Linked DNA regions of Homo sapiens: region 2 is linked to region 1. The links come from fine-mapping of genetic effects on gene expression. A gene starts in region 1. The other region holds a variant in brackets. All regions are shown on one strand. Distances are from middle to middle.

The links. PIP is the estimated chance that this variant, and not a neighbour inherited with it, causes the effect.
Region 2: its variant is the best candidate, but not a certain one, in a credible set for the expression of SLC75A1 in blood mononuclear cells (TOPMed, PIP 0.70).

Annotation. Positions count from the first base shown.
Region 1 is chr4:2,932,664-2,937,046 of GRCh38, forward strand. It overlaps SLC75A1 (solute carrier family 75 member 1), which reads right to left and starts at 2,162. Exons shown (of 13, transcript NM_001146069.2): 1 at 2,106-2,162; 2 at 1,090-1,281; 3 at 904-1,000; 4 at 443-546; 5 at 1-95. The coding sequence starts at 1,260. It overlaps NOP14-AS1 (NOP14 antisense RNA 1), which reads left to right and starts at 2,883. Exons shown (of 4, transcript NR_015453.2): 1 at 2,883-4,383. RefSeq lists enhancers at 403-632, 653-782, 875-1,742, 3,000-4,199, 4,002-4,241 and silencers at 1,583-1,802, 2,032-2,341, 2,502-2,611.
Region 2 is chr4:3,022,625-3,027,007 of GRCh38, forward strand. The region is part of intron 10 of GRK4 (G protein-coupled receptor kinase 4); the gene reads left to right. Among named protein-coding and RNA genes, the nearest start is that of HTT, 50 kb to the right of the region's middle. The variant G/A (reference allele first, on the strand shown) is at 2,551.

The DNA.
Region 1 (4,383 bases):
TTCCCTTTGCTGATGCCCCCAATCAGCCTGGAGGCCAGGAAGGCCGCAAAGCTCCGAGAGGTGGCCCAGACTGCATATGAGGTGGCCACACCCATCTGCCCAGGGGCAGGGGCCAAGAGGCAGGGGCGGTCGCTTAAGGCCAGGAGTGGCTCAGAGTAGGGCTTGGCAACCCAGACAACACCCCTCAACCCTGCCCTATTTCGAAGCATCTGAGGGCCACTTGCGTTCTCAGTGCCTTCCTAGGGGCCAGGAGCAGCTCCTTGAAAGCCTGGCTCTGGAACAGGAGCCACTGGTCCCCCGAGAACCCCCTCCAGGATGCGATGAGGGCCAACCAGTGGCCATGAGGGGCCCACAGCCACCTCCCTCTCCCCACCTAACCCCATGGGGCTACTGGCTGGGTGGGAGGAGGCTTCCCCATGGGCACCCAGGCCCAGGAACATACCAGGCACAGCAGCATCACCGGGCGCCTCCCCAAGCAGTCAGAGGTGGCCCCAGTGAGTGGCGCACACAGAAACTGCAGGACAGAGAATGCCGAGCCAATGAGACCTGAGAGACAGATGTCACCATCATGGGGCTGCCTGGCACCATGAGCTGTGGTCTTGGGGCCCTCAAGGCCAATGTCCAGCCCCGTCCTGAGGGTCCAGTCATGCTGGGCCCTACACTCACAGGCCATGGCCCTTGAGCCGAGGGGGCCCCAATGGAGAGATGAGGAAGGATCTGAACGTGACACGCGGAGGCAAGGGATCATGCCCAGAAGCCAGGACATGTGGGCAAGGGCACCAGACATGCCAGCCCAGGGAGTGGGAAGGCAAGGACCGAGAATTGGGGAGGGGCCTGGGCTGGACCACGTCCACCAAACATAGGACCGTAGAGAGCCCGCCAAGGGCACAGAGCCAGCCATACCTCCGAACAGGACACTGTTGTACCTCTTCTCCACTGGCATCCCGATGGCGGTGGCAAACCAGTCCACCCCGCCCTGCCAGGAGCCATAGAGGGGGTCCTAGGGGATGAGGAATCACGATAAGGGCTGGGGAGGTCTGATGGGCCTGGGGGGCAGGGGGCACTGTGGGCCGCAGGGCAAGGACTCACGTGGGCACGGCCGTGGCTCTCCAACAGCCCGGGCAGCAGGGGCAGCAGCAGCGTGAAGGCCAGGAGGTCCAGCAGGAGGCCGAGAAAGACAACGGTGACCACGCGGCGCTCCGGCGGCTGCTGGTGGATGGGTGGGCGCGGGGTGCAGCCTCCACCCCCTCCCCATCCCATGGTGGGCTGCTCTGACCTGGCCTGGGTGGGGTGCGGCGGGTCGGGTTAGCGGGGAAGCCGAGTCCTCCGGGGCCTGGCATACCCCCACACCCGACAGCCGGCGAGCACCCTAAAGGGGCTGATGGCAGGGGCTCTGGCCTACGGACGCAGGGGCCGTTCTGGCCTGCGCGATGCCCCCGCCCCGAACCCAGGCAGCAGGAAACGCAGGCTTCGGGGATTGCACAAAAAATAGCCGCAAAGGCAACGGTCCTGAGAGACCAGGGTGAGCACATCGCGGACCTGGCCCCACCCCACCCCACGGCCGCGCCTCCCACGCCCTCGTAACAGCGAGAGAAAACTTGAAGCCGCGGGGAACCCGGATCCCGATCCCGATCCCGATCCCGATCCCAACCCCAACCCCAGCCCCGGCCCGCGCCCCGCGATTCCGGCCCCTGGCCCGGACTCGGTCTCCCTGGCGGGGGCCATGGGGTGCACACCGGACGCAGGAGCACCCCCAACCCCGCGCGCCTCCCACTCCGCCATCCCGCGTGCGTCCCGGTCCCGCCCCCACCCCGCGCGCCCCCGGTCCCGCCCCCCACCCTGCGCGTCCCCGGTCCCGTCCCCCACCCTGCGCGCCCTCTAACCCCCACGCCGCGCGCCTCCCACCGCCCCCACCCCGCGCGCCCCTGGTCCAGCCCCACACCCCGCGCGCCCCCTACTCCCCTACCCTGCGCACCTCTCACCCGCCCCACCCCCGCGTACCCCGGGTCCCGTCTCCTCCCCCACCCCGCGCGTCCCCTGTCCCACCCCCAACCCGAGCGCCCCCTACGCCCCCCACCCCGGGCGCCCCCGGTCCCGCCCCGCACCTGCCGCGGCTGCGCGCTCGGGACGGACGGTCGCACAGACGCGGAACAGGGCACCAGGCACGCCGCCAGGGGCGGGACGGCCACGCCCGGCCACGCCACGCCCCGGAAGTGACGTACATCTCTGCACGTTCTCTTCCGGCCGGAGTCAGTGGCGGGGTTCTCGCCGGTCCTGCGGGTCGCTGCTTGGCTGTGGGTTAGCAGCACCCTGAGCGGAGCGGAAGAGCTGCCCGCCGCCGCGTAACCCCGAGGCCGAGACTCCTGGCCTGGCCTCCTTGGGCCCACGACGCCTGCCCCGCGGAGCGGACCCATGGGCCTGAGGTTTGTGTGCGGGGCCTCAGGCGAGCGCTGGCGCAGCCTGTCCCCCATCGTCTGCGCCCTGCGGGCCTGGCCCTCCCCGTGGAAGGACCGCGGGCTTCGGGGCCCCACGCTGGGGGGCTGACTCCTGCCACACACACAGCGGTGGCCGCGGGCCTGGGGCGGCAGCACAGCCATTCTGCTCGGGCTGCGTGAGCTGACCCCGCTCTCTGTGCACCTACTTTTGCTGCGTTTGGTGCTGAGCCTGAAGTCCCAGGACAGGCGGCTGAGGGGGAAAGATGGTGTGAATTGGGTGGGCAGAGACAACTGAAAGCCACAGGACCCGGTTGGCACCTTTTTGGCCGCCTGCGCCTTTGCCTGCAGCCCCGCTCCCTGGGTCACCCGAAGGAGGAGCTGGCGCTCTTTCCGGGCGCAGAAGCACCCGACCCACGCTGGAGGAAACGGTCCCTCTGGGCAGGAGAAGCTTTGGGCCTGGCTGGAGCACACTCACGGAACCACGCCAACGCCTGGCCTGTAGCCAGCTCCCACCTCCCCTCCCACCTTCTAAAATGCTTGCGGATCTCACGTGGCCGACCCTAACCAGATACACATGGGGAAAGGAATCAGGTGGCACACATACCGCCTTTACTCCATAGAGAACTTCCAATTGTGGGTAAGAACAAAGCCCCACCTCTTCCTAATAGATGCAGTTTTCCACCTGCAGCCAAAAAGACAACCTGTTATTAGCTTTTTTCCCAGAGGACAGGCATCTCTATGAAACTGCCATTGCAAAATTTGCCGACAGTGAGATAACCAGCTCCATTTTGCTTCTAACCTCCATGCCCTCCTTGTTTACTGCTGCACGCAGGTTGAACTGTGGGAGGAACTTAGTTTAAAACAAAGATGATAACAGCCCTTTCCCAAAGGAAACCTTTCCTGGGGATTAGCCTGCTTTTGTGGGACCAACAGATTAGCCACAAGATTAGAAACTACGGTTGAAGAGTCACGCAGCGGGAGGCTACAGGATTCTGACCCTCCCCAAACTGCTCCTGGCGATAACATCACCATCGTAAAGCCTAAGATCAGCACTTGGTGGGTCACCTGGCACCACCCAGGCTCATCTGATGTTGTGGCACCCAGGAACTGACTCAGTGCGAAAACAGCTTCGACTCCCTGTGATTTCATCTCTGACCTGACCAATGGGTACTTCTGACTCACTGGCTGCCCCCCACCCACCAGCTTATCTTTAAAAACTCCAAACCCCAGATGCTCAGGGAGACCGAGTAATAATAAAACTCCAGTCTCCCACACAGCTAGCTCTGCGTGAATTACCTTTTCTCTGTTGCAAATGCCCTTTCTTGATAAATTGGCTGTCTAGGTAACAGGGAAGGTGAACCCACTGGGCAGTTACACTTTTATCCACCCTTCCAGCTGGATCACGCGCCCTCTTCAATGACATGACACGCAGCTAGAGTGTATGAGCTTGCTGCCGGCACCTTCCGTCCTGGATCGCATAGCAAGGCCTCAATGGACAGCCAGGTGCCTGGTCCGGTCCCACTTTTTTTTCTGTCCTGTTCTCGTTTCCTCTTTGCTTGGCCAAAGAGGGTTGGGCCAGGGTCCTGAGTGCAAAGGCTTGGCTTGGTGAATTAAAGTGGCAGTAGCCGTGTGGCAGAGAAAATTTGTAGATGGGTGAAATCCTGGGCCTACACAGTGACAAAGTGTATATAGACAGCCAGCCTAGTTGGTGGATGTGACAACCCCAGACTCTTCTAGATTTGTGGATCCGTGCACCTGCCAGACCTGTCTCTGAGCCATCTGGGGAGGCTGGGTAAGATTTCCCCCGTCAGGGCCTGAGCCTCATCTCCAAGCTGCTGGCTTCAGCCCAGCTGCCACCAGCGCTGTCTCTGTCTTGCGCTTTCCAGAGAGAGACTGACTCATTTTGAGCTCCAGGCCTACCAGGCAGCCCAACCGCGGCAGTAACTGC
Region 2 (4,383 bases), 90 kb after region 1:
TCATTCCCCTGTGTTTAGGCAAGAAGCAGAGATGGTCATAATTTTCAATTAATGATTGAGTTTTAGAAGCCTTTTTTTTTAAGTCAGGGTCTTGCTGTGTCGCCCAGGCTGGAGTGCAGTGGTGTAATCATAGCTCACTGCAGCCTTGAACTACTGGGCTCAAATGACCCTCCCATCTCAGCTTTCTGCATAGCTGGGACTACAGCTGTGCGCCACCATGCTTGGCTAATTTTTAAATTTTTTTTGTAGAGATAGGGGTCATGCTATGTTGCCCAGGCTGTTCTCAAACTACTGCCCTCAAGCAGTCCTCCTGCCTTCCCTCCCAAAGCACTAGGGTTACAGGCATAAGCCACTGTGCCCCACCTAGAAGCACATTAAAGTAAACACAAAGTCAGAACGTTTTCTCCCTCTTGTTTCTTGCTGTTGACCCACCTCTTGCTTTATTCTTTTTTATTTCCATTCCCCTCTAAACTTTGTCATGTTGCCCCTGGTGCTGTCCTCTTGTCACATAGCATGTGTCACAGAGCAGGGTGCAGATGGCTGCTTGGAGACCCTGTAATAGTGGACAGGGAGTGGCCCTTTTCAGCAGGCTCCTTGTCTGCAGCATGGGTGCACACTCCACCTTGGTTCCTCTAAGGGAGAGTCATACCCAGAATGCAAGGATGGTTGCACTGCTGGGGAGGGTGGTTGTGCTCACACATAGCTCACAAGCAGTGCTGGGAGAGAGCTTCTTTCAAGTGAGTTTTCTTGGCAAAGAAGGGTCTTACAGTCTAGTAGAGCACACATGGCAAGGTCAGTGGCTCCTGCCGAGAAGAGGACAGGCGTCTAAGGCGGAGATTGAGGGCAGTCGTGGGGGACTTGGAATGCTAGTCTCCTTTTATGCCTCTGCCAGATGCTTTCATGCTTATCTAATTCATGTATGACACCCTGCCCTGTGAGGAAGGAGGGTACTGGAATTCTCATTTAATGGAAGGCGATACCAAGATTTAGGAATCAGACTTGTCCAAGGTTGTGTCCGTAGCTCCTGACTTAGCCTGTGGTTCATTCCTGGTGCTGTGCTGCTCACCAGAGGTGGCTTTGGGTGGGGAGGGCACTAAGCGAAGCTGCTCACTTACTGAGTTGTTAAAAGGCTTAACAAGGGTAGGTAGAACGTGCTCTGTATGCAAAGTGGAGCAATCTCCAAGCTATGTGGTTGATCGGAACAGGGTACGGTGCAGAGTGTGTGTGTAGTGTGCTCCCTTTTGTGTAAACAAAGCAGGGAATTGTGTGTAGTGTGCTTGCTCATAAACATAAAGAAACATAAAGGGACAATCATGAGAAATGGTTAGAAGTGATAACAAGGCAGGGGAGCACACTGATAACCTTTTTCTGTGTTTTTAGGAGATTTTTCTGTGTAGTTCTCTCTTCTTTAGAACTTTACCCCACATGTTTGAGCTGAGCTGTCTTTCCCCAGTGCTAACTCCTGCCTGGCTAACTTAGCAAGACCCCTGCTCTGCCCAGGTTCCCCTCCTGCGCCACGATCTGAAAGGCACTCCCGGGTGGGATGCCAGGATGGTTGCTGGGCCAGTTCCCTGTCTCTTCTCTTGGGGACCACAGTCCTCTGATGCCGATGACCACAGTTTTCCTTTTTTTAAAGTTCTTTTTAAGGTCAGGGTCTCTCTATGCTACCCAGGCTGGGTGCAGTAGCTACTCACAGGTGCGATTGTGGCACAATTACAACCTGAAACTCCTGGGCCTAAGCGACCCTCCTGCCTCAGCCTCCCACGTAGCTGGAGTTTCAGGCATGCACCACCACATCCAGCAGCGATTAAGGATATTTTAGTTGTTACGGTGCAATTATGCCTCACTGCAGTTTTGACCTCCAGGGCTGTAGCGATCCGCCTTGCCTCAGCCTCCTGAGTAGCTGGGAATACAGGCATGAGCCACCATATCTGGCTAATTTTAAAAAATTGTAGGCCAGGTGTGGGGCTTGTACCTATAATCCTAGTACTTTGGGAGGCTGAGGCAGGTGGATCACTTGAGGTCAAGAGTTCGAGACCAGCCTGGCCAACATGGTGAAACCCTGTCTCTACTAAAAATACAAAAATTAGCCGGGCGTGGCAGTGCACCTCTAATCCCAGCTACTCAGGAGGCCGAGGCAGGAGAATCGCTTGAACCCGGGCGGCAGAGGTTGCAGTGAGCCGAGATTGCACCACTACACTCCAGCCTGGGCGACAGAGTGAGACTCCGTCTCAAAAAACAAACAAACAAACAACAACAACAACAACAAAACCAGTAAAATATTTCTTTGCAGTTCTTTTAGTCATTAGCAAAAGTTCTTTGGTTCTAGGGTTGTTCACTCAAATTAATTTAAAGTCACTCAGAGGCCGGGCACAGTGGCTCTTGCCTGTAATCCCAATATTTTGGGAGGCCAAGGCAGGTGGATCACCTGAAGTCAGGAGTTCAAGACCAGCCTGGCCAACATGGTGAAACCCTGTCTCTACTAAAAATACAAAAATTAGCTGGGTGTGGTAATACATGCCTGTAGTCCCAGCTACTTGAGGGGCTGAG[G/A]CAGAAGAATCGCTTGAACCTGGGAGGCGGAGGTTGCAGTGAGCTGAAATCAAGCCATTGCACTCCAGCCTAGGTGACAGAGTGAGACTCTGTCTCAAAAAAAAAAAAAAAAAAAGTCACTCAGTATCATTCCCTTCTGTGCGGTTAAACCACCAGCTGGATACACCATTAGGTTCATTTTCTTAATTTTGCTTTCAATTTTTAGCGATCTAATTTTTTTTTTTTTTTTTTTTGAGACGGAGTCTTGCTCTGTCGCCCAGGCTGGTGTGCAGTGGCGTGATCTCGGCTCACTGTAAGCTCCGCCTCCCAGGTTCATGCCATTCTCCTGCCTCAGCCTCCCAAGCAGCTGGGACTACAGGCGCCCGCCACCACGCCCGGCTAATTTTTTATATTTTTTTTAGTAGAGACGGGGTTTCACCGTGTTAGCCAGGATGGTCTCGATCTCCTGACCTTGTGATCCGCCCGCCTCGGCCTCCCAAAGTGCTGGGATTACAGGCTTGAGCACCGCGCCCGGCCAGCAATCTAATTTTTTAATGTTATAATTATGTAAAACATTTATGTGGTTCCAAAGATAACACCGCAAAATAGAGTGTATCGTAAGATGTCTAGATTCCATCCCTGACCATCCCCAAGTAATTATTTTAACTCATATTTCATTCCTTCATTTACATACTATATATGTATAGATATATTTGTTCCCCACTCATTTCTTAAATAAAGTAGTAGACCACATGTATTGTCCTCCACGTGGCTATTTCACTGAATATACGGTGGAGATGGCTCTGCAACACTCATGGACGGCTTCCGTCCGTCTGCTGTGCCTCCTGCAGGCGAACCTGACCTGTTTGCGCAGCCCTCGCTGGTAAGCGTGTCATCTCCACCGGTGCTGTTTCCGTTGGTGCCGCGATGGAGAGCCTTGGGCACATGTAATTTCCTATTTCGTTGAATGTATCCTTGATAGAGTCCTAGAAGTGGGTGAATTCATACGCAATTTGTCAGATATTGCCAGATTCCGCTCCAGGGTGTTTCCCGTCTGCATTCCCACCAGCAGTGCACGAGAGCACCTGTTTCCCCACAGCCTCGCCAGCAGACCGAGTTCTCGAACTTTGGAGTTTTTGTCAGTTTGTTAGCTGGGAATTGGTATTTCAGTGTAGTTTTAAGTTGCATTTCTCAGTTTAAAAATCCATTTTTATAAGAAAAATAAGACAATGATACGAAAAAAATAAGTCACAACATGTTAGCACTCTACTTAAATGAAAAATACACGAAAGCTGGCCAGGCACGGTGGCTCACGCCTGTAATCCCAGCACTTTGGGAGGCCAGGGTGGGAGGATCGCTTGAGCCCAGGAGTTCAAGACCAGCCTGGGCAACATGACCAAACCCTGTCTCTACAAAAGAAAAGAAAAGAAAATGAAATGTGGATTATTGAAAGAATGCATCTGTACAAGGGGAGGAAACTGAGACATGATAGTACATGGCAGAGCCAGGACTCAGACCCACGCCATCGGGCTGGGTCTGTGCTCCTCACCCCTGTGCTCTCCCGCCTCCCAGGGTGGGCGCGCAGCAAGGGCGGGGTGTGGTGTATCACGTGCATGCATCTGAGTCAGAGGCCGGCTTTCCTCTCTAAAGCATCATGCAGACTGTTTTAAAATGACTACAGTGCCTTGGAGGGCATGTCGCATATTTTTAGTTTTTAGCAAACATTTATTGGTTATTCATTCATTTCACCAATAAATATTTATTGAGCACCTACTGTAGGCCAGGGTATGATATTAGAAGCTGAGGATAAGTGGTGAATAAGTTGAAGATAGTGTCCGCTTCCAGGGCTGGCTA